Linked DNA regions of Homo sapiens: region 2 is linked to region 1. Evidence: fine-mapped expression QTL. A gene starts in region 1. The other region holds a variant in brackets. All regions are shown on one strand. Distances are from middle to middle. Region 1 holds the start of PSTPIP1 (proline-serine-threonine phosphatase interacting protein 1). Region 2 holds the start of LOC105370904 (a long non-coding RNA gene).

Region 1 (15,733 bases):
GACTGAGTCTGTGAGGGAGGAACCTTCCAGAGCCAACCCAGAGGAGAGTCCTGGTGTGGGCAGCCCAGGGCCCAGGGCATCATGCTCTCTAGCTGGAAGCAGAGGCAGTCTTGGTTTCCACCCAAAGTTCCCTCCATCATGTGGTTTGCAGCGTCAGCCAGGCTCTGGGTGAGGAGGAAGGGCATCCCACTCACAGCCCGCAGCCTCTGTCCTCTTTTGCATGAGAGGAAACAGCCACCACCAGAGAGGGTGCAGAGAGGCAGAAGAAAGTATCTCTGCCACCACTTAGGGCAGAGACCTTTCACAATCCAGCTCGTGCCTTCCCTTCCTACCAGTCACCTTGCACAATGCTCTGGGCCAGAAAACTGTCTTCCAAACCCCCTTCCACACCTTTGCCCATGCCGTACCTCCCACCTTGAGTGCCGTTTGTCCTCCTGACATGTCTCAAATCCTCACCCACCCTTCAAAGCCCAAAGCAAGGCCCTCCTTCTCCATCCCAGGGGCTGCCCTAGTTCTGTGTAGATGTCAGGAGCAGCCAGGAAAAGCATGTGGGTTCCAGGGGACTGGAGCACAAAGTGGGTCATCAAGAAGCAGATCTTGTTTTTTATCAAGAATAAAATTGAATTCAGAACACCAAATCGACCCAGAACCCTGCAGCCAGCAAATCCTGGCAGTGACCATCTGCAGGCATCGCAAAAGCAAAGCAAGCATGACCACAAACCTCTGCAATCTTCTAACACCTGAGCAGCCGGCCACGTCCTGTGGAATGGGCACAGATGAACGAAGTTCTTGGTCCCCAGAGGCCCACGTACCACAAAATATGCACCGAGCATGTGGAAAAGGGCATGCTAGCAAACCACAAATTTGGCCTAGAAACACCAACTCATTCTTGAAAGCAGGAATTGCTTAGTTTTCTTTTTAAATATTTTCTTTTTAATGACAAAGGTACTCTGTATTGACTTGCAGAAAATTAGATGGGGGATGGAGAGAATCCTACTTCCAAATCCATAGACACCAGTGTTAACATGTAGGGAAGCATCCTTTCATCCTACACAAATTAAAGTAGAAGCAAGAACAAACTCTCTAGAATTCAGGGCAGAGGGCAATAGAGTTCGACAGACCTAGGTGGGAGTCCCTGCTCTACCCTGCACAGGTGACCCTCGTCTGGGCCTAGACCTGCCGTGCCTTAGGTCCCATCACAGAGTCAGGAAGACACTGACAATGCGTTTGGGGGCATGTGGACTGAATGGCAGCATGCCTGGCATGGAACAGGCACTCAGCAAATGGCAGCATTGCTGCTCCTCAGGGGATGATGTAAGTAGCTGGGATTCAGGGAAAAATTCTTCATGGGACTTGAAATAAATGTCCTCTTTTTCATTTTTAATTGTTTGATTTAATTTTTGAATAATTAATACATTCATATGGTTCAAAAATCAAACAGTATAAAAACATCAATCCTGAAAACGTTCACAGCCGCTCAGCCTCATCCCTCATCCATCTCCTTTCTCTCATTCTCCCAACAGGCAACCACTTTAATTAGCTCCCTGTGCATCCGTCCACAGATTTTTGTTGTTAATACTACAAGCCTGCGCCAGTATAAATGCTTATTTCCCCACTTTTCACAACGGGTTGCCGACCAGGTGCACTGCCAGGCTCTCTGCTTTTTACAGGGAACACCAGGTCTTAAAGAGCTTTCCCAATCAGGAAAGGGAGAGCCTCCGTCCTCACTGCTTCTGACAGATGCAGCCAGGCAGGTGCCGGGAAGGTACTTGGTGGCAGCAAAGGCAGGATGGCCAGGGCCTCTCTCTCCCACCTCCTGCACTGTCTGCAAGCTCTGAGTGCACCAGGGCCACTCCTCAGCCACTGGCCTCCTTGGCCCTCAAAGCCACAGCAGTTTGCTGGGCTGCAAGGCCTTCCACAAAGTCAGTGCAGGCTCTGGTTTCCAGCAGGGCCCCATCCACAGGCCCTGACCCTTCCAGGCCATTCTGGGGTCCCTCCTTCCTGTGTGAAAAAGCTCCTGCCCAACCAGAGGACTATGGGGGATCCCAAAGTGACTGCTAGTACCCATGGCTGGAGAACTGGCCCCACTCTTTCACCCAGAAATGCCTCCTTCCCTGGAAAATAGCCATTAGCCTCCTCTGCCCAAAGAAATAATCCCCAAGTGAAAAACCTTTATAGTCAAAGATCTACCCATGGTGTCACTGTCCAGAATAATAAATAATTGGCAGTAACCTAAATGTTCAGCAGTGGAGGACTGGGCAAAAAAAATCACAGCATGGTCACCAAATTCACAAGCTAGAGAACTGTGCAGCCATGAACAGTGGTGTTGCTGAAAATGAGGAACCCATGTCCACACCCACAGGTGTTCCCGATGGAGTGAGTTACGCTAAAAAAAGGGGAGGGTGGCAAAGTGTGAACAAACCTAGCGCTACTGAACCATACACCACAAAAATGGTTAAGATGGTACATTTTATGTGTATTTCGCTACAATTTAAAATAAAATTTAAAATACTAGAAAAAAAAAGGAGGGAGGGCCGTGCATGGTGGCTCACGCCTGTAATCCCAGCACTCTGGAAGCCAAGGCAGGAGGATTGCTTGAGCCCAAGAGTTTGAGACCAGCCTGGGCAACACAGGGAGACCTCATCTCTGCAAAAATAAAAAATTTGTAAAAGAAAGGGAAAATACAAAATTATGTACACAATATGCTTGCACCTATGTAAGGCAATCTTATGCAAACACAGCATAATATTAGCAGTTGTGTGATGAGACTAAAGGTGCTTCTTCTTTTCCTATTTTTCTCCATTTCCCCACTTTCCTTTTAGGATCTTATATTAGTTGATTTTGTTTCTTTAGAAAGTGTGTGTGTGTATGTGTGTGTGTGTGTGTGTGTGTGTGTATATATATATATATATCTCTCTTTAAATGCCCAGGATGGAACAGGTGCCCAGCAAATGTCAGGCTCTCCTGATGCCCCTGGGCCATGGTAGACAGGTCTGGGGGTAGGGACAGGCAGCTTTATGACAGATCAGAGTAGGGCCCCTCAGTCCCCTTCTCTGTAGCCTCATAAATGGGCACCTCAGCATCTCAGAACTGGGAAGGGAAAAGGCACCAGTGGCTGAGTGCCACATAGGGAAGGGGCAGACCAGCCCAGCTGGTCCCACTGTGTGAAGCTGGTGAGTCACTGCCCCACTCGGCAGCGGTGCTGTCACCTGTTAAATGGGCTTGGGGAGGCTCAGCTCCTCCCAGTGTGGCACAGGGGTTTCTAGATAGAGCCAGAGCCCAGCCTCAAAGGAGAGATACACCCACATGTCAAGGGGAAAGTTCAGGCCTATTGTCCCCATACCCCCTTGGTGGTTCCCACCCAAAGGGTGGGTGACAGTCACTGCAGTGCATGTGACCCAGCCTCCCCAGGTCCTTACTTTTCCTTTTAACTACCCTAAAAGGAATAGGATGTGGATCTCAATAGAATCTGGTCCAGAACTAGATTTTCCCTCTTAAAACAATATCTAATGACATCTTTGCAAAGGCCATTGGATAGACATACAGGTTGCGGGGGATGGGGGACCTGGGAGAGGATGGCACAGTTGAGATACTGCTCCTCTCAGAGCACTCCTTGCCTGACCCAGTTATTCCTCCAGCCCCGGCACTGAACTATGGCTTCCTTCAGGTCAAGACAGTTTCATTCATCTGATTAGATGTTGCAGGGTGAAGAAGCTCAGGGGTCCAGCGTGGACCACCTAGTAGACAGCCCTACTCACCAAATATTTGCAGAATATAACAAAAGTGAAATGTAGTGCTGGGCGCGGCGGCTCACGCCTGTAATCCCAGCACTTTGGAAGGCTGAGGCGGGTGGATCATCTGAGGTCAGGAGTTCGAGACCAGCCAGGCCAACATGGTGAAATCTCATCTGTACTAAAAATACAAAAATTAGACAGACGTGGCGGCGCACGTCTGTAATCCCAGCTACTCGGGAGGCTGAGACAGGAGAATCACCTGACCCCAGGAGGCGGAGGTTGCAGTGAGCTGAGATTGTGCCACTGCCCTCCAGCCTGGGTGACAGAGTAAGATTCTTTCTCAAAAAAAAAAAAAAGTGAAATGAAGTAAAAAATGGGTTCAGGAAGGGAGATGGACCATGGAGACATTCACTGTCCATTCATTTATTCTATGAACACGTCCTCAGCCAGTACCCCACTTGTCAGCCCTGTGCAGAGGATACAGACAGACATTTCTTGCAATAATTTGGCCACCTGCTGGGAGTGGAGCCACGACAAACTGGGGGCAGGGGGAGGACCCTTCCTTCTCTGGGCTTCCCAGCGCCTTAGACTCAGTGCTAGGCCAGTGCCCTCTCCGCTCAGACAGCTGGTATTCTCAGATTCAACCTTGTCTCACTGACAGGTCCCACTCTGAGGCTCATTTACAAACTTCCTGCCAAGGTGTGATGCTCTTTATCATCTGTGTGTATCACAGAAATCACATTATCCCTTCCCTCCCTCTGTGGCTGGTCCGCCCTGCCTCACTCCTACAGCAGCGTGCATCTGAACACTCGGCTGCAGCTAAAATCAGGCTATAAATAAATACTGTGTGGCCACACTGACAAAATTGCAAAAACAGGCCGACTGAGGGACAGGACTGTGTCTGCTCCCATGCTGAGTGTCCCCACTACTTCTGTGCCACTACAGCTGCTTTTCAGACTGTTTCTGTCTCCTTCCTTGCAATCAGGCTGCTAGCTGCCTGTGAAACGTCCTTTCGTAGTCCAGGTCCATCAGCATTTATCCATCGCCAACTGTATATCAGGTACTGTGCAGACTGCCACTAATTGCTACATCTATAGGCTAAAAGACCCCATGACCAAGCTCATTAAAATTGTGGGTGAAATTAGAGTTCATAGGACCTGAGTAAAAGCTAGGGGACATCTCCTAGGAGTGTAGTATATGAGCTTTAAGGAAAGCTCTTAGGGAAATCATCTTTGGCTCCTGAGAAACCACTTTTGCTTCCTCCCTTACTGTGAGCTAAAGCCAGAAACAGCAGGGCTGGCTCCCCTCCTCCGCCCCGTGTTCTGTATGGGTGAGGTTGCCCAATAACTGAGGGGCTGTGATATCAAACATGATCTTTCCAGTTTAGCCAAAGTAGGGTCCCTCCACTCTGTCAGCTCTGTCACCCAGGCTAGAGTACAGTGGCACAATCTCAGCTCACTGCAACCTCTGCCTCTTGGGTTCAAGCTGTTCTCCTGCCTCAGCCTCCCAAGTAGCTGGGATTACAGGAGCATGCCATCACGCCTGGCTAATTTTTGTATTTTTAGTAGAGACAGGGTTTCACCATGTTGGCCAGGCTGGTCTTGAACTCCTGACCTCAAGTGATCCATCCACCTTGGCCTCCCAGAGTGCTGGGATTACAGGCGTGAACCACTGCACCCCGCCTAAAAACCAGTCATTTCTAAACAGTGTGCTGGCAGGCTGAAGGGTTTAATGACAGTGCCTTGGGCTGGGGTGGGGGAAGGCCCAGACATGGGCCAAGCTGGCTGGGCTGTTCCTAATATAACACCTGTGGCCAGAGTAGTGTGCCTTTTCTGTTTTACAGATTTGTCTACAAATGAAGCTTCAGAATATTGTTCTAGCCACCTTGTCTGATTTTCTTACCCCTCTGGGAGATAAGAGGGGTTACCTCTTATCTTACCCCGAAGCCAAAAGATCCAGTGATATGTCAGATAGACAGAGGGATCCTGCAACAACACAAGTGCTAAAGCCAGCCTGCCAGGGGTTTAATCCCAGCAGTGTGACCTTGCGCAAGTCTCTTAATATCTCCGTGCCTCAATTTCCTCATCTGAATAAGAGAGATAACAGTAGCATGTGTTTGAAGGATTGAATGAGTGAATATGCATACATCTTGAGAACAGCGCCTGGCACATCTTTCGTGCTCAGCAAATGTTAGTTGTTATGCACTGGGATGGGCTGAGCATCAGGAAGAGGTATTAGAATCCAGAGCCCTGGGGCAGGTGATGCCTACAGTGACCTTTCGGGGCATCGGCCCAGACTCAGTGTGAGAGGTTCCCACTGGCTACTTCTCTCCCCTTCCTGCTCTGGCCTTCCCTAGGGAAACTATATGCCCGCCCCAGGCTCAGGGAGCCAGACACAGAGGAGACAAGGCACTTGGAGGCCAGGAAGCCCAGAGGTGCGACGAGCACAGAGTGTGGGCAGGATGCCGCTCAGGAAGCTCCACAGGGGCTGGCTGCTTGCTTCTGCTGCGGCTGCCATACCCTGCTCCCTTATACGCCACCCCTACCTGTGCCCAGATCCTGCCATGGAGGCTGCTCCTTGCCCAGCTCTGCCCTAGGGAAGGCAGGCCCAGGGGCTCTAGGACTGGACAGAGGTCTCAGTGATAAAATAGTCAAGGGGTCCTGGCCTGCCCTGGGCTACAGAGTGGCCTGGGTTTCCAGGCCCTACCCCTTCCCCCAACTTTGCACACCAAGGCAGGGCAGCTAGGTGGTGACTCACATCCCCCATCCCCCAGGGCTCCAGCTGCCAGCCTGGGCCCTGAGCATCCTGGTGCCTGGTCCTCCGGATGGGCTGAGGCAGCTCTGCCTCCATTGGCTTCTCTGGGCTGGGCCCACCCTGTCTTTGTAGAGATGGGGAAACTGAGGCCCAGAAAGGCACAAGGTGCCCTCCCCACGTGGGGTCCTTTGCCTACTGTACAGTCAGAGCAGAGGAAGCAGAACACTCACACGCTGGCCACAGGCCCCAAGTGGAGCCGGCCGGAAGGGAAGGAAGGCCTGGCTCCATAGCTCTCATCCTCCTGGCTGCAGCCCCAGGAAAAGGCCCGGGGAGGGCAGGGCTGTTGGCTGGGGCTCAGCCGGCTGAGCCGAGGGCCAGAGCGTCCTCTTCGGGGTTGGAGGCAGCACCCCGGGACAGCCACATTCCCCAGCTCCAACCAGAGAGGTCTCAGTTTTTCCCCAGAGCCCTGGGCACAGCCAGAGCTGAGGGGCAGAGGGGTAGTTGAAGGACAGCTGGAAAAGTGCTGAGATGACCAGGGGTCCAAGCTGGGCTGCAGGCTACGTGGCCCGGGCCAAGCCACTTTACCTCTACCACTGGCTGGGCGCCCTTATTTCATGGGGGAAATGACTTGATTTAAGCCCGTGTTGAATTTAAGAAAGTAAGCAAGCCATTGCCCACCTGGCTGCCTCCTTGAAGGACCCCTAAGGTCTGCAAGGGACAAGGGGCTGGGTGAGGGGAACAGAATTACCATTTGGAGTGAGGCAAGGTGCTGGGGGCTTTAGTGCCTTGGATCCCCTTGCTGATCCAATGCTTTAGTTGGTGTGTTGATTTCTATTTTATCACCATTATATAGATGGAGAGACTGAGGCTTGGAGACAGAAATGACTTGCCCAGCCTGTAACAGAGCCAAGACCTGAACTCAAGTTTGTCTGGTCTCTAAATCTGTGACCCCTCCTTTGCTGCCCCACACATCCTCCTCAAGCCCCCACCCATGTGTTACCCTCTTCTGAGGAGCTCCTGCTGTGGGGAGAGGTCTCCCAGAGGAGAAAACACACGGGGCAGCAGAGAGGAGGACGCTCATTCACGGAGTCCACTTGCGTTCCAGTCCAGAAGGGGTGGGGGCCTGGGCCACCTCCATGACAATTAAGACCAAGAATCAACCACTATTTTATGAGAAAGCTCCCCTCTCGGAGCCGCATCCCATCACCTGCATGGAGATTTCAGCCTAGCTCTGCCCCCTCCACTTGTTCAGTGCCCCCAACCATCCTCACTCACCCAAAAGGCATCTTTGAACTGCAGCTGGGGCATCATCCTCAGGCGTCTGCCGCGGCAAAGCTCACTCTCCTGCCACAGGCTGGCCTGATGGAGGGCCAGGCGCCAGCAGCAGCGTCCCAGTCCTGGCAGGGCTGGCCCAGGCCCCCCTTCCCGGCCGGCGCCGTCTGCAACACTCAGAAGGCAGCCACGAGCCAGAGAGGAGCTTCTGAGGGGAGGAAAAAGCTCAACCTGTTTTGTTTGGGGCTAGAATCAGCAGCAAAATGAGGAAGGAGTGGAGCTCAGTGATGGGAGGGCGGGCCCTGGTGTCCAGCCCAGCCCCTCACCGACCCTGCGGTGATGGAGGACACAGTCTGGGACCCAGGGCAGGGAGCAGGGATGCCAGCCCTGGGTGGGAGGCAGTGGCCAGTGGAAGAGGCAGGCTGGAGCTCGGGCCGGGCCAGGCAGGCAGGCAGGCAGGCAGCCCGAGGCCTGCGCAGGAAGGTTTGTGCAACCTCCCCCGGGGCAGGCACAGGGCCCTCGCCCACAGGAAGTGGAGTTGCTGTGCTCCCCTGTGCAGCCCCGCCTGCCACCTGCCATCCTGCTCCTGCCTCTGCTTGCCCCCTCCCGAGGTGCGGGCTCACTTTATTCCAGAGGCCATATGCTAAGGGAGCTTGAGGCCCACTGACAGTGTGGCCAGGAGGGGCCCAGGAACCCCAGGTGTGTCACCCGCCAGCCAGTCCAGCACCCTTCCAGGCTGGGCCCAGAGATGCCAGACTCCCCACCCCGCACTAGCAAGTCATTCTGGAGGGGCTTACCCAGGTCTAGGGCATCTGTCATTCATCAAACCCTGGCTGCTCTGGGACCCAAACCAGGTCCTGCCCTCAAGGAGCCCATAGTCTGGGAGCAGACACAGCTGTGCTCTGGGGGGCTGTGAGCACACAGAGGCAAGGTGAGCAGGCAGCAAGATGAGGGAGAACAGCCTGAGGCCCCGGCACTGCCCCCACCACCACCACCGCCACCACCGCAAGTCTCCAGATTAGACGCTGTTTGGGGCAGAGAACCCCCTTCTGAAGATGGAGGCTTCCGGCTCAGTGAATGGGAATGGATGGAGAGAGAAACAGGATTATCAAGGCACAGAGTGGGGTGTTTGGAAACCCAGTCTGAGGCCCAGTTTTTGTTTAATTTTGACCCCACCTTTCAGGGGCTGAGGGACCTTAATAGACCCCCCAACTCGCTGAGCCTCAGCTTCCTCATCTGCCACACCCAGTCTTTGGAAAGTAGACGGTGTCGAGAATATTTCTGGAATTTCCAGTTTGGTGGGCAGGTGCTGGGGGCACTGTGTGGTACCACCTTAGGAAGAGCCCTGGACTAGAGCCCCAGCCCCAGCCCTGAGACGCCACGCCCTGCCGGCTCAGCAGAAGATGCAGCAGGAAGTCCTGAGCCCAGGGCAGGCTGGCAAAATGGGGTGAGTCAGGGATTGTCCGCAAATCACCACCCTCACTGATGTCTGCCTTACAGCTGACGGGGTGATAAGATGAGAGCTGCTGCAGATGAAATAGTTGAGCTCCCAAGTGCCCATTATGCATGCCCAGGGTTTAGAGAGAGGGGGCACACCCAGGCTCTGAAATAGCCACCCAAGAGGAAACACTTTGGGGAGGATTGCAGAGCAATGGGACTGCCCCCAGAAGGCCCTCACCTCCAGAAACCTTGGATTTGAGCTAATCTTTAATCTGTAAGGCGCCCCAGTCAGGTTTTTTGTTACTTGCAGCTGAAGACAATTAATAGTGTAAAAATCCCCTTGAACTTTGTAGGCCATAGAGTGAGCCAGGCTGCACCTCACCTCCCAATGGCACCACCACCTCTGATAGCACTGGCTCAGCCTCCCTGAGCTCAGTTTCTCCATCCATCAGATGGGATGATGCCTCTAGGTCTGGAGCAGACTAGAGACCCTCTGTTAACAGAAGGCTCCTGCCTGCTTATTGGCAGAAATTTTTACAGCTGGGCTCCCTGCCCTGCCTCTCTAGGTGTCCTTCCCATCACCTCCCAGAGACTTCTGCTCCAGCCAGGCCTCTTCCCTCTCCCTGGAGGCACCTTTCCCACTCCCACCTGCTCTGTTCCCAGCCTCCCTTCTGGCAAGCCTTCCTTGATCTTCCTTACCTGGGCAAATCCTCCCACCCTCAAAGCCAACCTCAAGGCTCCCACACATGAGGCCTTCCTTTCCCAACTGTACCTGTCCAGCCAGGGCAGCCCCGGATGGAGGGCCATGCTGGTGACGGGCTGGAGCAACTGGGGAAGGAAGTAATGTGAGGAACCTCTGGAGAGACTCTGCAATTCTCTACTAGAGAGGCCTTCCTCCTCCCCTCCCTTCCACCCTTACCTGTTGCAGGTCCCCAGGCTGGGCGACCAGACAGCCAATTCGGCTTTGGAGTACTTACCCAGCACCGGGTACATCATTCTGCTTTTCACACGGACCACCTCAGTTACACTGTCATTATCCCCACTTTACAGAGGGGCAAACTAGTGATTAAAGAGTGTAAGTAACGCACCCAAGTAGCAGGCAATAAGCAGAAGGCTGGGCTTTGGTCCTAGATCTGTCCGAAGCCAAAGCACACGCTCTTAACTTCCACAGTTGTCTTTTACTAACAGCCCTCTATTCAAAAAGCGTTTCATTGTTCCTTTCTCCAGTTCTACCTCGAGACCCTCTCACCCAAGTCAATAAAAGGAAAAACAATCTAGGGAAGCCACCGGGGCTGATGGTGCCATAGGAATGAGAGGCCAGCCTTTAGCACATGCTATTCTGCATCACTGTGTTATTCGCATCAGTTGAGGATGCTTTTGGCTGCAAAGAACATAAACCAGAGGGTCTGACACAGAGGACGTGTGCTGTCATCTACACAACGGGGCTGGAGGCAGGGCAGCCTCCAGCTGTGGTACATGAGGGCTTCAGCTCAGTCTCTCTGAGTTTCTCTTGCATTTACGATCTTCCTCCTTGGGCTGGAGGCCAAGGAGCTGCAGCAGCTCATCTACAACTCCAGACACAGCCACAAGCAGAGAAAGAAAAGGACACCTGCCCTTGTGTCTCATTTTCTCCAAAGCCCCTGCACCCTCCCTTCTGCCCAGCTCCCCAGGAGACCTTCCCTTGTGTCTCCTTGGCCCTAGGTGGGTCACGTGCTCATACTTCCCCATGGTTGGCCTTGCGAATGGGCAGCCGGGGATGCCGAAAGCCAACCACGTGACCACCACAACCTTCTCCTCAGCCCAGGCACACAAGCACTGCTGAGCACCAACTCCTGCAGGGTCCTGCTGGGACCGGGGCCTCAAGGGGAGGCAGACTTGGTTTTTGCTCTGAGGGGCCTAGAGACTGACAGACAGGTTCTAGGGAGTTCTTTCTCCATAAGGAGTGGCTCAGAGCGGGTGAGACCAGAAGAAGATATTGTGATGACTTTTACAGGAATGAGGTCTGGTTGGGGCAGGTGCGATGGGGCTTGAGTGGATTGGTGGGATGTCAGGGAGATGGAGGAGCAAGACTGAGATGTCTGAGTGCCCCTCAGAAAAGAGTACTGTCTTAGGGGGCCCCTATTCACACCAGCCCCACCCACACCCAGGCCCAGGCCCTTGGGGAGAGGAATCCATCCCTGAAAATCACCGCTTTTTAGTGACTGTTCCAGCTGCTTCAAAACAATTTGCCTTGAGGTCTGTGCAGTTGTGCCTCAGGCCAGGCTGTGGGGGCATACCCCTCCCAGGCAGAGCCCCTGCCTGTTTTGCCTGGTATCTGAACACATCTGCTTGAAGAATTCAAGAAGCAGTAGCTACAAGGATTGAGAATAAAATGCAAAATCAGTTTTTATAACATTTATTGTCACAGCCCCCACCACTGACTGGCAGGACTCCGCTCCTGAAGACACTTCATCCATCCCTCTGAGCCACAGAAACAACAAAACCAGTAACAACAGCTGCCACAGAAGGAGGATCAATATTTACAGGACCTCCATCACTTTCACAAGCTTGATCTCACTGATTGCTCACTGCCTGGACAGCTACATAATTTGCGAGTCCAGTGCAAAATAAAAATGTGAGACCTCTTACTCAAAAAGCAGGGACAAAATTGCCGTTAAAGGTACTAATCTATAAAACTTGTTTCTTTACTGCAGTCTCTCTCTCAACCTGGAATGGTGTTTTTGATTTGTTATTTAACGTTACACTCCCTTGGGCATGGGAATATCTGTGGGACAACTTGCCCCGCCCCACCCTCTGACTTGACTCAGTTCTGTGTGAAATTCACCAGTTGCTGGACTTCTCCTCCTGTCAGCCACCACGCTGATCTGCATTCTGCGTTCCCCAGCGGAGGTTGGGGAAGTCAAGCCAGGCATTGCCATTTCCCATGGACCTGCCTCACCAACCCACAGCGGACAGGCAGTCCCCAGGGGTGTTGCAAAATCCAGGCCAGGATGCACTAGGAACCAGGGTCAGAAGTGAGTGAGAGGCTCAGCCCCCTGAGTCGCCTGTTGAATTTGCCATGGTGTTGCCAGCCTGGGGCAGGGGCCACATTGCCATGGCCAATCCTCAGATGCTACCAGGTGTGCCCTTGACCCGGACTGTCCCCATGCCTGCACTCAGGTCTCTGCTGGGGGCAGAGTGTGGCAGTGGTTGCTAGGCAGAAGTGGAGAAGACTGAGAACAAGTCCAGGGGAGGCAGTTGGAAGCAGGACCACAGGAGCCAAGGCTCCAAGTCCTTGATGTATGCTTCATTGTCCCACCAGACTGTACTTAAGAAAAGCAAATTCAAAAATAATGTGATTAAGAATTCCAAGACAGCAATCTCAGAGCATTAGACCCCAAGTACAATTTGCTTACACGAGTTGTACATCTATGAAACCAACCCTGCTCACTCCTGTCTGCTCTCTACACAGCAGAGTGACATTTTCAGATCCACATTTGGTCATATCAACGTCCCACTGTCACCTTGCCATGATTTTCCATTACTCTCAGGACAATGGCCATTGCCCTTACATGGCCTACAGACCCTGCATAATTTGGTCCCAGCCTACTCTTCAAAACTTCAACTCCCATTATGCCTCTCTCAATTTCTGATACTGCTTCCTGGACCATCTTTCAATTCCTCCATTCTGCCTCATTCTCTTCTTTCCCGGGTCCTTCACACATGATCACCCCTCTGCCTGGAAGCTTCTTCCCGTTCCATCCTAGACCCTGCCTTGGCCCAGCTAACTACTCCTTATCCCTTGGCCCTCTTATCAAATGTCACCTCTTCAGGAAAGCCTTTCCTGACCAATAAATGGATGGACAAATGGACAAAATGCAGGCAAGATGGAAAGCAAATAAACATCTTTTTTCTTTTTTCCTTTTTTTTTTTTTTTTTTTTTGGGACAGTGTCTCGCTCTGTCGCCCAGGCTGGAGTGCAGTGACACAGTCTTGGCTCACTGCAGACTCTGCCTCCCAGGTTCAAGCAGTTCTCCCAGCCTCAGCCTCCCAAGTAGCTGGGATTACAGGCATGCACCATCATGCTTGGCTAATTTTTATATTTTTAGTAGAGACAGGGTTTCACAGTGTTGGCCAGGCTGGTCTCAAACTCCTGACCTCAGGTGATCTGCCTGCCTTGGCCTCCCAAACTGCTGGGATTATAGGTGTGAGCCACTGCACCTGGCCGAATAAACACCATTTTGAAGGAAGTTCAGCCAAGTTCTCAGGGGCTGGAAGAGAAGACGTTGTTGGGGGAATAGCTCTCAGAGGTGAGGCTGACACCAAGCTGGAGGGCGGGACTGCACTCTGAGGGTCCTAAGATTCTAATTTGTTATCCAGGAAGAATCTAAAGCGAGAGCTTCCAGCCTTCTGAAGAGGGGCAGGGGCTGGAAAGAAGAGGGAGAGAAGGAGGGTCTGAAAGCTCTTTGGTGACATTCGAAGAGCCAGGAGGCCCTTGCCATGAATTTCATTTGGAGATGGCATTGCCACTGGTCCAAGGGGTAGGGCAAGTGACGCACGCTTCTCCCTTCTGCAGGGGAGCATCTGTCCTGCAGGAGTAATTCTCAACCTGCCATCAGCTTATGGCCAGAAGGGCATTCATGAGTCGGCCATTTAGACCTCGGTGGATGCACTGTCATGACGCTGCCCATGGCTGTAGGGTTGTGCACCCATCCCATGGCTGAAGTGGGATGTTCCAGCACCTGGCCATGATGGTTCACTATTGCTGGGGGAAATACCTGTAGGGTCCCTCCAGGTGGCCAGAGGCACATGCCTACTGTACTGGGGCAACCACTGTCCACCCCACTTACCCTGTCCCAGATTGGAACAAGCTCCACTGCAGCACACCCACCAGCACTGACTGAGCCTTCCTGTCTGGGAACATGCAAATGAACAAGCTCAGCCCCTGCCAGTCTGGTGAGGGAGGCAGCCTAGGAAGGGAAAATGTGCTGTGCGCAGACAACAGAGAAAGGCTGTTGAGGAGCCTGGCCTGGGAAGTCCTCCCAAAGGAGGGGAGCTGGGTCTTGATTAATGGGAAAGAGCTCACCCGTGAGGCAGGAAGGGAGTTCCAGAATAACGCTAATAGTCTACTAGGGCTGTGCTGCATCAGGCTCTGCTGTAAGCACTTCCCATGCCTTATGTATCACTTAATCTTCCCAACAACAGTGTGAGGCATTACGGCCACATTCAACAGATAAGGAACCTGAGGCTTAGACAGGTCAGTTAACTTTTCGGAGTCCCATCGCTAAAAAGGGTCTTTCCTCCCCAGAGTGTGGGGCTGGCAGTGAGGGGCCAGGGCCTGGGGCAGAAACAGGATGAGGAAGAAGGGAAAAGCAAGTCCCCACTGAGGAGGAAGTGCAGAGCCCATGCGGGGTGGGGGTGTGGCGCTCAGATGGAGGCTCCTCTCCTCTGACTCCAGGAAATATCCTTGCCCCAGAGTCCTCCACTGGGGCTGAGGGTGTGGCCTTTGGCCTTCAGGATGTGATACAGTTTGTTTTTCAGTTTGCCCCCAGGGACAGCAGTTGCAAAAACTAAGGCCTCTTCCCACTCACACAGCTCGCCTGAGTTGACGAGGAGCTTTCAGGTTTACTAATTTGCAGCCACAAGAGTGTGACTCTGAGTTTCCAAGCATTATCAGTCGTCAGAAGCCGAGTGCCGGTCAGGATTCTTGAAAGACAGCAAAGAGGTGCAAAGTGGCCCTTCGGGAGGTGGCCCAGGAACTGGTGGGCATGGGGAAGGGGCCTCAGTGAGTCCCAGGAATCCACTGCCACCCGATCACTGGTCAGAGGACGGAGGACTGCAGTGATGGAAGAGCCTGCAGGGACTATCTGGAGGTGCTCAAACAGCACAAAGTGTGCCTACCAGAAGTGGGACTTTGTTAAAAAAAAAAAAAAAAAAAAAAGCAAAAGGCCAAGTCCCAACCTTGGCCTACTGACTGGGTGGGGCCAGGGAGTATAGATTTTAGGTTTCGTAAGTGAGTCAGTCATACACCTTGGAGGAGAACTCCTGCTATTGCCTTACTTTCTCATTTTACAAATGGGAAACTGAGGCCCAATAAGTGGGGTAGCAGGGCCCAGAGGGGGACCAGTAGAATGATCTCACTGACAGGGAAGGAAAGGCATAACCATCTCCCACCCCCCAACCCCTTTTCTAGCCTGTTTTGTTTTGTTTCCATTATGGCAGCTGTCTCTCAAAACAGCTTCAAAAATGTGTTTCTAGCATCCTCTCCCCCCTTGGGTTGGTTTTAATTCAGGTGGAAAATGACTTGTTCACAGTAAAGCAAAGCTTGATTTCAGCCCAGCTGGTGTTTAATTTTCCCTGAAAACCTAGGATTCAGAGGCAGGAGACCCCAACTTCAGTCTTGGCTGGGCCGGAAAATCAATAGGCAGAGACATGTGGTGGGCCCGTGTGCAGGCAAAGGGAGCAGCATGTGCTGAGGCTCGGAGTAGGGAAGCCCCAGCCTGTGCAAGGAGTGGAACTTGGGGTGGGGGGGGCGGGGGTAGATGATCCCTGGAG
Region 2 (15,733 bases), 21 kb after region 1:
GGTCCTCACAAAACTGCTTGAGGGTAGTATTATCACTTCCATCACACGGACGAGGAAATGAATCTCAGGAGGATGAGGCCATGTGGCCACAGCCCTGTGATTAGTAAGAACCCCAGAGCCGTGTGATTCAAAACACTCCATGCCCACCTTCTCTTCTTCTGTAACTCCCATATCTCCACACAGCTGCAAGGACGAGGCCATAACTGCGACTGGACACACCAGAAAGCCATCTCAGAAAGTCACTCAGGCCATAAGTATCAAGGGATTATTGAGAGATTTTAAAATGTTCACACACTGTGTCCAGAATTTCCATGACTAAAAATCTACCCCAAGGAAATAAGAATCATGGGAAATAATTCTGTACAAAGATATTTGTAACAGTATTATTTGTCAAAGAAAAAACCTGAAAACGAAACTAAATGTCCAAGCCTACTTCTTACACCTGTAATCCCAGCACTTTGAGAGGCTGATGTGGGCAGATCACTTGAGCCCAGGAGTTTGAGACCAGCCTGGCCAAGGTAGCAAGACCTTGTCTCAAAAAAAAAAAAAATCAAAAAATTAGCTGGATGTGATGTTGCATACCTGTGATTCCAGCTACTTGGGAGGTTGAGGTGGGAGGATCACTTGAGCCCAGAAGGTCAAGGCTGCAGAGAGCCATGATCACACTACTGCATTCCAGCCTGGGCAATAGAATGAGACCCACCCCCCCTCCCCCCGCCAAAAAAAAAAAAAAAACCAAAAACCTAAAAACTATGGCATTGCTTTACAGAAAATACATCACAGACATTGAAAATGTTTACCAAGAGTTTTATAATATTATAGGGCAAATGTTTATTACATAATACCAAATAAAAATAGCAGGTTAGGCTGGGTGTGATGACTGACACCTGTAATCCCAGCAATTTAGGGGGCTGAGACAGGCTTATTGCTTGAGCCCAGGAGTTCAAGATCAGCCTGGGCAACATGGAAGACCCAGTCTCTACAAAAAATACAAAAATTAGCTAGGTGTGGGTGACGTGTCTGTAGACCCAGCTACTTGGGAAGTTGAGGTGGGCAGATCACTTAAGCCCAGGGCAGGGGGTTGGGGAGGCAGTGGGGGCGGGGGTGGAGGCTACAGAGACCCTATCTATAACAACTACAAAAAAAGCAGGCTAACAAAGAATAAATAGCCAAATAAATCTTTTTTTTTTTTTTTTTTTGAGACAGAGTCTTGCTCTGTCGCCCAGGCTGGAGTGCAGTGGCATAATCTCAGCTCTCTGCAAGCTCCGTCTCCCATGTTCACGCCATTCTCCTGCCTCAGCCTCCCAAGTAGCTGGGACTACAGGCACCCGCCACCACGCCCAGCTAAATTTTTGGATTTTTAGTAGAGACTGGGTTTCACCGTGATAGCCAGGATGGTCTTGATCTCCTGACCTCATGATCTGCCCACCTCGGCCTCCCAAAGTGCTGGGGTTACAGGTGTGAGCCACCGCACGTGGCCAGCCAAATAAATCTTAAGCAAAAAGGATAAAGCTGGAGTCATCACACCTCTAGCTTTACCTGACTTCAAAATTTACTAAAAAAATCTATAGTAACCAAAACAGCATGGTACTGGCATAAAAACAGACACATAGATCAATGGAACAGAATAGACAACCCAGAAATAAATCCATGTATTTACAGTCTACTGATTTTCAACAAAGCTGCCAATAATGTCCTTTGGGGGAAAGGACAGTCTCTTTAATAAATGGGTATGGGGAAAACTGGATATCTATATGCAGAAAAATGAAACTAGATCCTTATCTCTCATCATTAAAAAAATTAAATCCAAATTAATGAAAAACTTAAATGTAAGACCCCAAACTAGAAAACTACTAGAAGGGACCTAGAAGCAGCTTCTCTGCTCCTTCTTGAATGTCCACCTGGTTCAGCCCATCTGCCTCCACTCCTGCCTCCACCATGTCCATCAGGGTGACCTAGAAGTCCTATAAGGTGTCCACCTCTGGCCCCCAGGCCTTCAGCAGCCGCTCCTACATGAGTGGGCCTGGTGCCCACATCAGCTCCTTGAGCTTCTCCTGAGTGGGCAGCAGCAGCTTCCAGGGTGGCCTGGGTGGAGGCTATGGCAGGGCCAGCAGTATCGGAGGCATCACAGCTGTCATGATCATCCAGAGCCTGCTGAGCCCCCTTAACCTGGAGGTGGACCCCAACATCCAGGCCATGCACACCCAGGAGAAGGAGCACATCAAGAGCCTCAACAACAAGTTTGCCTCCTTCATCGACAAGGTACAGTTCCTGGAGCAGCAGAACAAGATGCTGGAGACCAAGTGGAGCCTCGTGCAGCAGCAGAAGAAGGCTCGGAGCAACGTGGACCACCAGTTCGAGAGCTACATCAACAACCTTTGGCAGCAGCTGGAGACTCTGGGCCAGGACAAGCTGAAGCTGGAGGCAGGGCTTGGCAACATGCAGGGGCTGGTTGAGGACTTCAAGAACAAGTAGGATGATGAGATCAATGAGCGTGCAGAGATGGAGAATGAATTTGTCCTCCTCAAGAAGGATGTGGATGAAGCTTACATAAACAAGGTACAGCTGGAGTCTGGCCTGGAAGCGCTGACTGATGAGATCAACTTCCTCAGGCAACTGTATGAAGAGGAGATCCAGGAGCTGCCGTCCCAGATTTCCCACACGCCTGTGGTGCTGTCCATGGACAACAGCCGCTGCCTGGACACGGATAGCATCATCACTGAGGTCAAGGCACAGTATGAGGAGATCGCCAACCGCAGCCGGGCTGAGGCTGAGAGCATGCACCAGAGCAAGCATGAGGAGCTGCAGACGCTGGCTGGGAAGCACGGCGATGACTTGCAGTGCACAAAGACTGAGATCTCGGAGATGAACTGGAACATCAGCCGGCTCCAGGCTGAGATTGAGGGCCTCAAAGACCAGAGGGCTTCCCTGGAGGCCGCCATGGTAGATGCCGAGCAGCGCGGGGAGCTGGCTGTTAAGGACGCCAATGCCAAGTTGTCCGAGCTGGAGGCCGCCCTGCGGCAGGCCAAGCAGGACATGGTGCGGCAGCTGCCTGAGTACCAGGAGCTGATGAACGTCAGGCTGGTCCTGGACATGGAAATCCCACCTACAGGAAGCTGCTGGAGGGCGAGGAGAGCCGGCTGGCGTCTGGGATGCAGAACATGAGTATCCAAACGAAGACTACCAGTGGCTATGCTGATGTGCTGAGCTCGGGCTACGGGGGCGTCACAAGCCCCAGCCTCAGCTTACGGCCTGGGCTCCAGCTTTGGCTCTGGCTGGAGGCTCCAGCTCCTTCAGCCGCACCAGCTCCATGGTTGTGAAGAAGATGGAGACCCGCGATGGGAAGCTGGTGTCCTAGTCCTCAGACGTCCTGCCCAGGTGAACGGCCATGGCAGCCCCGCCCAGCCTATCCCTCCTGCGGCTGCCCCAGAGCCTGTGGGGGAGGTTGAAGCCCACCCGCAGGGGGAGTTTACTGCCTGGGGTGTCCCACTTGGCCATGCCTCCAGCTACAAGCCAATTCGATTTTTTTTTCCAAAAGAAAACCTCAGCTAGCTATGCCAAAAAAAAAAAAAAAAAAAGAAAAAGAAAAAGAAAAAGAAAGAAAAGCAAAAACTAAAACTACTAGAAGAAAACATAGAGGAAACACTTCAGGACATTGGATTGGTCTGGGCAAAGATTTAATGGAGACCTCAAATGCACAGGCAACAAAAGCAAAAAATAGACAAATGGAATTAGATCAAACTAAAAAGCTTCTGTACAGCAAAGGAAACAATCAACAGAGTGAAGAGACAGCCTGCAGAATGGGAGAAAATATTTGCAAACTATCTATCTGACAAAAGACTAATATCAAGAATACACAAGGAACTCAAATAACTCAACAGCAAAAAAACAAATAATCTCATTTCAAAATGGGCAAATGAGCTGAATAGACATCTCTCAAAGACATACAAATGGCCAACAGGTATATGAAAAAATGTGTGACATCAATAATCATCAGGAAAATGCAAATCAAAATGGTGATGGGATATCATCCCATCCCAATTAGAATGACTACCATAAAAATGACAAAAAATAACAAATGCTGAGGATGTGGAGAAAGATGTCTTATATGCTATTCATGGAAATGTAAATTAGTACAGCCATTATGAAAACCAGTATAAAGTTTCCTCAAAAATCTAAAAATAGAACTAACATATGATCCCACAGTCCCACTAGAGGGTATACATCCAAAGGAAAGGAAATCAGTATATTGAAGAGCTATCTCCACTCCCATATTTATTGCAGCATTATTCACAATAGCAAAGATATGGAATCAATCTAAGTGTCTATCAGTGGATGAATGGATAAAGAAAATCTGGTATACATACACAGTGGAATACTATCCAGCCAGAAAAAAAATGAAATCTTGACATTCACAGCAATACAGATGAGCATGGAGGACATCATGTTAAGTGAAATAAGCCAAGGACAGGAAGAAAAATACCACATGTTCTCACTCATATGTGGGAGCTAAAAAAGTTGAGTGCGTAGAAGTAGAAAGTAGAATAGCGGTTACTAAACCCTGGGAAGGGTGGGGGATAGTGAGAGGTTAAAGGATACTGAATCACAACTAGATACGAGGAATAAGCCCTCGTGTTCTATAACACCCTAGGATGACTATAATTAACAATTTATTGTATATTTAAAAATTGCTAGAAGAGTGGATTTTAAATGTTCCCAACACAAATAAATGATAAATGGGCTGGATGCGGTGGCTCATGCCTGTAATCCCAGCACTTTGGGAGGCCAAGGCGGGCAGATCACTGAGTTCAACAGTTCAAGACCAGCCTGGCCAACATGGTGAAACCCTATCTCTACTAAAAAGACAAAAATTAGCTGGGGATGGTGGTGAGTGCCTGTAATTCCAGCCACTTGGGAGGCTGAGGCAGGAGAATCACTTGAGCCCTGGAGGTGGACGTTACAGTGAGCTGAGATCATGCCACTGCACTCCAGCCTGGGTGACAGAATGAGACTCCATCACAAAAAAAAAAAAAAAAAAAAAAAAAAAGATAAATGTTTGAGGTGATGGGTATGCTAATTACCCTGATTTGATCATTATGGATCATATACATGTATTGAAATAGCACACTGTATCCCATAAATATGTACAATTACTACATGTTAACTAAAAATAATAATAGCTGGATGCGGTGGCACGTGCCTGTAGTCCTAGCTACTTGGGAGGCTGAGGCAGGAGGATCGCTTGAGTTCAGGAGTTCTGGGCTGCAGTGTGCTGTGCTGATTGGATGTCCACACTAAGTTTGACATCAACAAGGTGACCTCCCAGGAGCGGGGGACCACCAGGTTGCCCAAGGAGGGGTGAACCAGCCCAGATCCAAAATGGAGCAGGTCAGAACTCCCATGCTGATCAGTGGGACTGCACCTGTGAATAGCCACTGAACTCCAGCCTGGGCAACATAGTGAGACCTCATTTCTAAAAAAAATTTAAGAAGAAATAGCAGGTTATAAAATTATACAGAAAGGTAGGTCTCAACCATAACAAAGTGCTCTGCAGTTAAAAAAAAAAAAAAAAAGGAAGCATGACTCTTCAGCAGCTCCACTTCCTCAGGGTTCCCCGTGTGTCATGCACACACCTCTAACAGCAATTTCACTCTGACAGTGTCTCTTTGCCTTGTCTCTCTCTCTCTTTCTCCACTGGACTGTGAGCATTTAGGGTGGGGAGCAGTTGGGTTTTAGTTCTCTTTGATAGAGCAGCATCCAGGACAGAATCTGTCCCTGAGTGGATGCTTAATCCACATCTGTGGAATGAATGAGCAGATGAATGAAAGGAAAGGACGGGAAGGCTGGACCAGATCCCAAGCCACTCACTTCCTTGAAATCAGAGTTCCCCCAACCCAAACCCCACTAGGATTCTCTCCTAAAGCCTTTGGCAGTTTTGTTGCCTGAGAAACAAGAAGGCCCTTCTCAGCAGTTCCCCCATCATCCTATGCCTAGGGACTTGGGGCTGGAGGCCTGAACAGCCACTCAGGAGCAAGCTCTTCATCTATCATTTCCTCTAATCTTCATAGCAATAAAATATCAGAATTGTGATTCCTCATTAACATTTGCAGAAACTAAGCCTCAGGGCTTGAAATTTGCTCAAGCTCTTATAGCTAGTAAGTGGCAGAATTCAAATCTCCCTGTCTCCAAAATCCATATTCTTAGAGACAAGACTGCAAAAGTGACCTTGGACAAGCCCCTTCTCCTGCGTGAACCTTGGTTTCCCCTCTGGGTAATGAGGCTGCGGGTCCTCAGAGGGCTCAGCTATCCATTTCCACTCAGATAGTCCACCATAATAAAATGTCCCAACTCATCCTTCCCCAGCTTCCCTGCGTTACTGGAAGCAGCCTGTAACCTACCGGAATGTAGGACTGCAAGCTTGCCAAGCGAGGCCATGTTCACCTGGCTGGAGAAGAGCTCCTGTTTCTCCTCAATGCTGGCAGAAAGCCCTGGGAGCATAAGAGCACCTTATCTGCAACTCACCTAAACAGGTGTGTATGGGGTTGCTGGCCATTGCCTCACATCCCCCCCGCCTTAACCCCCTGGGTTGCCATCTGAGGGTTGTGGAGGGGCTTCATGCTGGCTTTGCTCAGGTCTTATGGCCAAGAGGCACCAAGAAACACAATATCTCCCCCTGCCCCAGTACACACCCCACCCTCAGGGAAAACCCTTATAATAACAGCCCGCACCTGCAGTCTCCCACCTTAGCCTAGTAAGGTAACCAAGACACGGATGGCAGCCGCATGTTATAGCTGGGGATCCTGGGGCTCAGAAAAAGACAGTAATGTTCCAGAGACTATCCAGCAGTTAAGTGGCAGAGCTGAGACTGAGTTCCAGCCCCCAGGCCAGTATTTAGTGCTTTCCTTCCAGAGCCCATGTTAGTCCAGGTCATGTAGCACATTTATTGACCCCTGCCACAGGCAGGGAACCATGAGGCCAAGGAATGGGCAAGATGCAGCCTCTGCCATTGAAGGGTTACAGTTCAGAGGAGCAGAAGGATAAGGTCTCATTCAGGAGTTAATAAATGAAGATTAATAAGATTACAAAACAAGTGGATGAGGTGTCAGAGCAGGGGGGGTCCTAGTGCTGCCCAGGAATGGCGGGCACAGAGTGGGAGCCTGCAGAGCCTGCTGAATGCAAGGCTGGCTGACTGAATAAGGGGCTGTTTCACTACCCAGAGGGATGCAGGAGGGTGGCAGGGAGGGGGGTTGAAGGAGAGAAAGATAACTGAGCAGAGGTGTGGCAGAGGGATGAGGACCCACAGTTTGACATACGTGCAGGATGCACCTCTGAAAGGATAAATAAAGCTGTAAAAATTCAGTAAGGCCACATTTTTGTACCACTTTAAATGCCAAGCCAAGTATTTTCAAAGATTCTCTGCAGATGAAGGCTGCTGTTATAAAATATGGTTTAGAAGCATTAATTTGGCAGCAACACAGTAACTAATCAGAGAAACAACGGCAGCCCCTGGTGGATATGTGGGCAGGGTGAGCCGGAGGCAGGGAGGCAAATGAGGATGCTGGAGAGGCTGGGCCAGGGCCAGCCAGGGACAATGGGAAGGGAAGAGCTGGTGGGTGACAGGGGCTGGTGTCTGACATCGCCTTCCTCTGATCCAACAGCTTGGCCTCCCTGCTGGCCAGCCTCAGCCCCACCCCATCAGAGGGTCAGCCCTGACCCAAGAGGAGAATAAGAAGGCAGCCAGCAGCCAGTCTCACAAGCATTGCTGGTGGTCAGCTTCCTCTCTGGATGAAGCACATTAACATGGTGAAGCTCCTGGCATGCCCCCTGGCATACAGGACCACTCAGCCCCTAGACCCGGGCTTATATCTTTCAGACCCATAAGTGCCACTTCATCTGGATGTGGGACTCTTCCTCCAGCCTGCCAGAGCTGGAGTTAGGACCCTGAACCCCAAGCTGAGCTACATATGGCCCTGATGCCAGGAGCCACCCGGACCTCCTTGTGGGCCTGTGTCTGTCCTCCTCGTTCTTACTGCAGTTAACAATGCTGTATTTGCTTACTTGATTTTTGTCTCTGATATCCTCCAATGTCAGCTCTTCGACACTAAGACCCACACATCACTTGTTCACAATTATATCCTTCAACTAGCATGGTACCTGACACCTACAGATATCAAAAATGGTTGTGGGATGAACGAGTGACTGTTACCCTCATAGTGGGTGCCCTTACCCAGCCAGGGGTCATGCTTATTTCCTAAGGGTCTGCCACCCCCTCCACCTCCACTCTAGGTTGCCTCAGAGGCACTCACACCCCCATGGGGTCTTACTCACCTCCCCACTCTCCTACCCTAATCTCACTGGACTTGTCCCAGGCTGTCCTTAACCATCAGAGTCATGCCATGGGTTAAGGGCCTAAAGGACAAATAAAAGTCCCTCCCCACCCCATCCTCCCACTACTTACTGTGTGGTGGTGTCTATTATACAGAGAAGTCGTGGTTGTGTCTTTCTGAGATAGGGCCATCCTGGGGGCCACCAAGGAAGGCCCCTGCTCCCCTGCTAGAAGGAGGTAGGAAATGGAACTTCTGGGCCAGGCAGGGTAGAGGAGAGCTCAATCCCTCTTGGTCTGCATTTGGAAAATCTGGAAGAATAGAAGAAACTTCTGGAGCCAGGGGAGAAAGATGGCACTGAGATCAAGGCAGGAGACACCCAAGCTCTGCCCCAAAAGAGTTTTCCAGGTTTGGGTGCTGCCGGGAACAATTTCCATTGTTCTTCCCCAAGCCTTTATCTGAATGGTCTTTACCACCCCCACTGGGCTCTGAGCTGTC[G/A]CCTGGCAGCTGCCGTTGGTTCAGGCTGATTCTTGGATGCTGGAGGAACAGCGCCTCCTAGAGCCCAGGAAGGTGGAGCAGCAGAAGTCAGCAAAAGCCCCCTAGACCCCCTGTGTCAGGGCTGCTTGAAGAGCCTGGTGTCACAGCCAGTCTGGACATTTCTGAATTTTATTTAGCCCAAGAAGCCTGAGCTTCCTATGGTGGCTTCAGTCCAGCAGTTAGTGATGCTGTTCCCCTCAGACCCACCCCAGGTGCAGGGGCAGGTGCAGCGATCAAGGAGGCACCACCTCATCCCAGGGTGTCCCTGCTCAAGTCTTCTGCCTGCCCCGCCCTGCCCCAGGCCTCCTCAGTCTTGAGACAAGAGGTGGCTGCTCCCTACCCCGAGCTATGCAGAAGGGGCAAGCTTGGTGTGCAGGACTTTCCAGCGAGTCCTTCGGAGTTGCTGGACCGCTTAACTGGACCTCGAGATAACTTCTCCCAGAGCAGATGGGTGGGGACTGGCGGCTCCTTAGCTGTAACCTTCCTACCCCAAATCCTGTTGTTTCGAGAGTTAATTCTGGAGCCACAGGGAGGATGGGAGGCATTATTGCCCTTCATACCTCCAGAAGTTCTCTTTCAGGCACAGGAAAGGGGTTTTGGCATCTGCCGTGCTTGCAGTTTTCCAGACTGAAACGTCTGTATCAGTCTTATGACTCAGAAATTCTGTTCCTGTGCCTATGAGGAGGGAGCGAGGGGCGGCGGGAGAGTCCGCCGGCCCGGGAGTAGATAAGGAAAGTGGGGTTGCTGCACTGCAAGTACACGCATTATGGATATAATGGATATATCTTAAAATCAAAGTGTTTAATGAGAAAAGTAGGAAACCAAGTGAGATTTTTATAACATAATGCCATTCCTGTAGTTAAAAATACATGCATAGACACGTGCTTATTTTTAGCACTGTGTTATTGCCTCTGGTGTTAATAAAATGAACACATGACTCTCTGGCACCTGTATGGAAAAGACTTAAAATACTTATTTTTAGGATATGAGGTGAACATGTTTTTGTCCAAAATCTGGACATTAACTTCATAGGCAAAGACGATTACATAACATCTCTCTTATGTTAAGGACTTTTTAATCTGGAACTTCTGCATAGTCACATAGCTGGAAGGAATTTCGGTGGTATTTTCAATAATTCAGTACTATTTTTTAAATGTGCTTGAAAATTCTATAAATTGACTTAGGAATACTATACTTAACTGGGAATGTAAGTATACATACTATATTTTTACATATGTATATCCACGATATATTTTGCTCCCCAAATTATTTTTCATCTTCACATTGCATTGGCCCTGAGTTTGAAATAACAAGCTTATTCTAAGCAGAGAGGAAACTGGTGAAGGAAGATGATTTTGAAGAGAGTTTTGAGAAGTATTTATGTTTCTTCTCCCTTTAAAACTCTTGAAAATAATCATAGCCACAATATCCCACTTAAAAACAATTGACAATAATTTTAATATAATCAAATATTCAGCCAGTGTTCAAATTTCTAATTGTGTTTCATATGTCACCAAAAAATTATTTTATTCTGTTCAGATTGTTTGAATCTTGATCTAAATAAGTTTTGCAGGTTGTGATTCTTTTAACTATCAGTTTCCTTTACATGTCTGTCTGTTTTTCTTTACAGCCTATTTGTTTAAGAAACTAGATAATAAGGCCCAGTGCAGTGGCTCACACCTGTAATCCCAGAAATTGGTAGGCCGAGGAGGGTGGATCACTTGAGCCCAGGAGTTTGAGACCAGCATGGGCAACATAGCAAAACCCTGTCTCTGCCAAAAAACAAAACCAAAAATTAGCCAGGTATGGTGGTGTGCACCTGTAGTCCCAGCTCCTCAGGGGGGCTGAGGCAGGAGGATCACTTGAGTCTGGGAGATTGAGGCTGCAGTGAGCTGTGATCATGCTGCTGCACTCCAGCATGGGTGACAGACGAGACCCTGTCTCAAAAACAAAGAAAAGAAAAGAGAAAGAAAGAAACTAGATCATTTATCCTGTAGAGCTTCCCACAGTATAGAATGACTGATTGCATATCCATTGTGTCCTTTAATATTTTCTTCTATCTCCTGTATTTCCTGTAAATTGCCATTTGAATCTAGATTCAGGTCCAATTTTTTGGCAAGAATACTTCATAGGAGGCCTATGAGGTCTGGTTATCTCAATTTGTGATATTAGCAGACATTGCTGATCAGTGCCACTATCCATTAATTAGGGATTGCCACATGGCAATATTCTAATTCTACCATTTCTTCTTGATTTACGAGCTGAATTACTTCTATAAAGAGAAACGTCTCCTTATCTACTATTTGGTTACCCAGTAGTAGTTTGTACAGTATAGGCGGGATAAATGCTCAATTATTTCTCTTTATCAGTTTATGAACCACCGAATACTCCAAAGGTGACCAATTAGATATGTTTTAGTATCATTATGAACTCATGGAGTTAAACATATTTGATGTGCTTCAATCCATTGCAATTTTTGCCTTTATTGATGCAAAAATGGTCCCATCTTTGGCCAGAGGGGGCCTCTTCAAGTTGACTCCTGAGTCCTTTGGACACCACCCTAGCTGTCTTAGAGAACTTTCTTGCCATCTGATATGGCCAATGTTCCAGTCACCTGTTGTCCATTTCCTGTCTCAGACCTGGAATCAATCACTTTTTCAGGGAACACTAGTTCTTTTACTGGGTATATTTCAAGAAGATAATCTAGGTACTGGGGTGCTCATAGCTACTGAAATGCTTATTGTTCTTAGGTCTTTTCTGAGGTCAGAACTAGGAAATACATTTTTTCTCAATATAAATATAAGGCACATCATAAGTTCATATTGATACTTTCAATTAAATTTAGGTCTACAGGGTGTTTGCACAACCTCTTCCTTCTTCCATCTGTACCTCCTTTCTCCCATGTCCAGAATCTCATTTCTCAAAAACACCAGGAATTCCAGAATTAGAATTTCACATAATTTCTCATTTGCTTCATTCCACACTGCACACAACAGTCTCAGAACACCAATACCAAGTCTCCCATCAGCCAAGTGACTGCTGAAAACAATTTAAGATTTTCGTTTGTGTATTTGCAGTTCTTTTTGTCTTCAGGCTATATCCTTTTGGGGTTGTACAGTCAAATTACTGTGTTTAGAACAGTTCATCTGTGTGCTGACTCCACCAACCAGATGCACATTATGTTTATTTGCTTCTTTTTGGGGGGATTCATTTTTATGTAATTTTTTTACTTTTATGAAATATTTACTCAGTTCCAAAGTCACATGTACAAAACAAGCTATCTTCAAATAAGTCCAGCTTCCATCTCTATCTCTTCCGTTCTGCTCCCTCTCTCCTCCTACAGGTAGCCACTTTTCATTGCTTTATCCTTCCATTGCTTGTGTGCTTTTAAATATAAGCAGATACATTTACATGTTTATATATTTGCATCCCTGCCTTCCTTAGAGAACTGTGAGACACACATTCCTTTTCTTAATGATATATTCTATATGGAAACAGTCTTCACTTCTTTCTCCAGCTACCTAGTACTTCTTGGCATGGCTGTACCATAGTTCATTCAGCCAGCCTATTGACAGACATTTGGGCTGTTTCTCATTACAAATAGTCCTGCAACTAATTGCCTTTTTTGATTATGTTTTGTTTTGAGACAGAGTCTTGCTCTGTCGCCTAGGCTGGAGTGCAGTGGCTTGATCTGGGCTCACTGCAACCTCTGTCTCCTGGGTTCAAGTGATTCTCCTGCCTCAGCCTTGTGAATAGCTGGGACTACAGGCACGCGCCACCATACCCGGCTAATTTTTGTATTTTTTTAGTACAGACAGGGTTTCACCATGTTGGCCAGGCTAGTCTCCAATTCCTGGCCTCAAGTCATCCACCCACCTCAGTCTCCCAAAGCGCTGGGATTACAGATGTGAGCCACCACGGCAGGCTTGCCTTTTGTATTTTGATCTGAGTTCATTTTAGATGCAAATCCTGTACATCCTTATTTCACAGAGTTTTTCTATATTACCAATGTGGTCAAGACTCTCCCCTGCTTAAAACCCATCAACAGTTTTTGATCATTCATAGGATAAAGTCCAAATTCAGCTTGACAGACAGCACCCACCAGACCTGCCTGGCCCCTCATATTGGTCTATCTTCTTGTCAGAGGCATTCGAACCAGAGCGACTCCATTTTGAGTAAGGGCTAGGAAAATGGGGCTGGGAATTGCTGGGCTGCATTCTCAGAAAGTCAGGCATTCCTGGCCTCTAGATATTTACAGTTAAGGGAAAAAATTAATAATGTTTACTAAACAGACCCAGACGGGAATGTCCAGATATCCTGATATCTGGAGAACACAGGCATTCCTAATTTTGCTTTAAAGATAATAATATCAATTCTTGCAAAATATCATAATTAAGAAAATTAATCCTTTATCACAAACCCTTGTAGCAGAGCACATCTCTCCATATATACAAGCATTGTACCCAGGGTGGACGCCTTCCTCCTCTTACTTTCGGGAACGTCCTGCTCTGTCTATGGAGTAGCCGTCCTTTCACCACTTTACCTTCTTAATAAACTTGCTTTTACATTGCACTGCGGACTTACCCTGAATTATTTCTTGTGCAAGATCCAAGAACCCTCTCTTGGGGTCTGGATCAGGATGCCTTTCCTATAACATTCTGGCCCTCTCTACCCAGCACCTCTCATGCCCCTCTCTACCAAGGAGGAAGCCCACACTTCCCTGACTCTGGGCTGCCCACACATGCTCTACTCTCTGCTTAGAAGGCTTGGTATCCTTCTTTTCTTCACCTGGCTAACTGTATAGCCTGTGTGAACTTATCAGTGTCAATTCACGGATTTCCAGGCTGTGATTTTCTTTCTTTCTTTTTTCTTTTCTTTTCTTTTTTTTTTTTTTTTTAAAGAAGATGAGGCCTTTAGAACCTGGGCTGTGATTTTCTTATGTCCATCTCCTCCTCACTGATGGCACCTTCAGAGCTGGGGCTGACTTAATATCCTCAATGGCTGGGCACAGTGACTCATGCCTGTAATCACAGTGCTTTGGAAGGCCCAGGCAGGAGAATTACTTGAGCTCAGGCATTTGAGATCAGCCTGGGTGACATAGCAAAACCCCATCTCTACAAAAAATTAAAAAATTAGCCAGGTGTGGTGGCTGCTTCTGTAGTTCCAGCTACTTGGGAGGCTGAGGTGGGAGGATCTCTTGAGCCCAGGAGTTCAAGGCAGCAGTGAGCTAAGATGGCACTACTGCGCTCCAGCCTGGGAAACAGAGCAAGACCCAGTTTTATACATTTTATATACATATATATTATATATATATATACACACACACACATACATATACATATATATTTTATATATAGGTATATTATATAGGTATATTAAATACACATATATAGGTATATTATATAATACCTATATATAGGTATTATACATATACATATATATGTATCTCCCCAGTGACCAGCAGAATCCCAGTGGCTCTGTGGGCTCAGTAAATGTTTGTGGAATTAATGAATACTTGTCTTGCCTTTCCTTTCAAATAAACAAAAACAGCTCCAGGTTACAGCTGTGTCTCTTGCCAACCAGAGAAGCAGCTGCACTATAACGAAATCTCCTTGGTGTTATTCTTTTTGTTATCCTTCTGAAGGGAAAACATTTTACTCTTGTTAGGTGTTTATGAGAAAGACTGGAGCTATCATCATTGTGGGGGTGGGGAGGGGGTGAGGAGGGGGTGAGGAGGAGACTTTCTAATCCAGAAACTCAAGTAGTCCAAGAATTTTATGACAAAGTTCTGGTTCTGTTGGAAAAAACAGACTCAGAGCCAGCAAGTCTGGGCAGACAAAGGCAGGCCCTGGCTGGCGGCCCTCCCCTCTGTGGCAAGTCCATGGGCCTTCTCACATTTGGCCCCTTTAGAGTCTGGGAAGTCCCCCAGGTTCACCTCTGAAATCCCACCACCAGGGCAGGCTCTGACAGTCTCCTAGGCTACCTTCAAGACAGGTTTCCCCCAGCATGGCAAAACCAATTCTACCCCTGCCCTTCCCATTGGCGCAGGCTTTGGGGCTCCCTGCCTTTTCTCCTGTCTGCACCAAAGGTGGTGAAAGGCTTGGTTAAACTCAAATTGCAGCCTCTGCCATCTGCTGCCCCTGCAATCCTTGACCCCAGCATGGAAAGCCCTCACCGTGTGCCATCCCTGGAGAGGGGCATGTGAGGTATGTGGCTGCAGCAGTGCACACACTCACGTCTTTCCCCTTCCCCATAAACATCACCACCTTGGTGACACCACATCCAAGGAAGTGTGTGGGCAGCTCAGGAAAAGCCTGGGAGGGGAGCAGAAGTTCCGGTTTGGAAAATTCTCAAAGAACCACAGAATCAAAGGAGCTCCTGTCGGAAAGGACTTGATATGCACCCAGGATATTCCAAAGAGGTGTCCACATGGGAGGGCTCCAGATCCCTATTCCAGGGATCACCAAAGAGGCCCCGCTTTGTTTTATAAATTGTGGTACCATGGTGTATTATCTCATTCGAAGAAAGAGTTCTGCTTTAAAACATGATTTTAAAGTCTGCAAAATATTGACCCTGGTGCAGTTTCTTGCCTGATACAAGAATTGCCTTTACTATGGCATCTCTGTCATGCGACCATACAGACTTACATACTCCCAGTGCCAGGAACTCCTTTTTACTCCTAAGATGCCATCCCATTGTTGGTTAGCTCTGTATCAGAAGAAGCCCCCAACTGTTTTTTCATGGCTCACTGCATATGCCTCTTGTTCCTGGTCCTCTTCTACATGACGGGGCTGTGGCTCCTTGAGACAGAGCCCACATCCCTTCCCTCTCCCCAGCTCATCCCTTCTCCATATTAAGTGTCCTTAGGTCTT

Evidence for each region.
Region 2: its variant is fine-mapped to the expression of PSTPIP1 in aorta (GTEx, PIP 0.97).

The regions. Positions count from the first base shown.
Region 1 is chr15:76,987,640-77,003,372 of GRCh38, reverse strand. PSTPIP1 (proline-serine-threonine phosphatase interacting protein 1) reads right to left here and starts at 8,247. Exons shown (of 15, transcript NM_003978.5): 1 at 7,764-8,247. The coding sequence starts at 7,799. RefSeq lists a silencer at 8,063-8,252 and enhancers at 8,493-8,542, 14,842-15,001.
Region 2 is chr15:76,966,657-76,982,389 of GRCh38, reverse strand. LOC105370904 (a long non-coding RNA gene) reads right to left here and starts at 9,486. Exons shown (of 3, transcript XR_932492.2): 1 at 9,422-9,486; 2 at 8,459-8,635. It also overlaps the pseudogene RN7SL278P and the pseudogene KRT8P23. The variant G/A (reference allele first, on the strand shown) is at 8,823.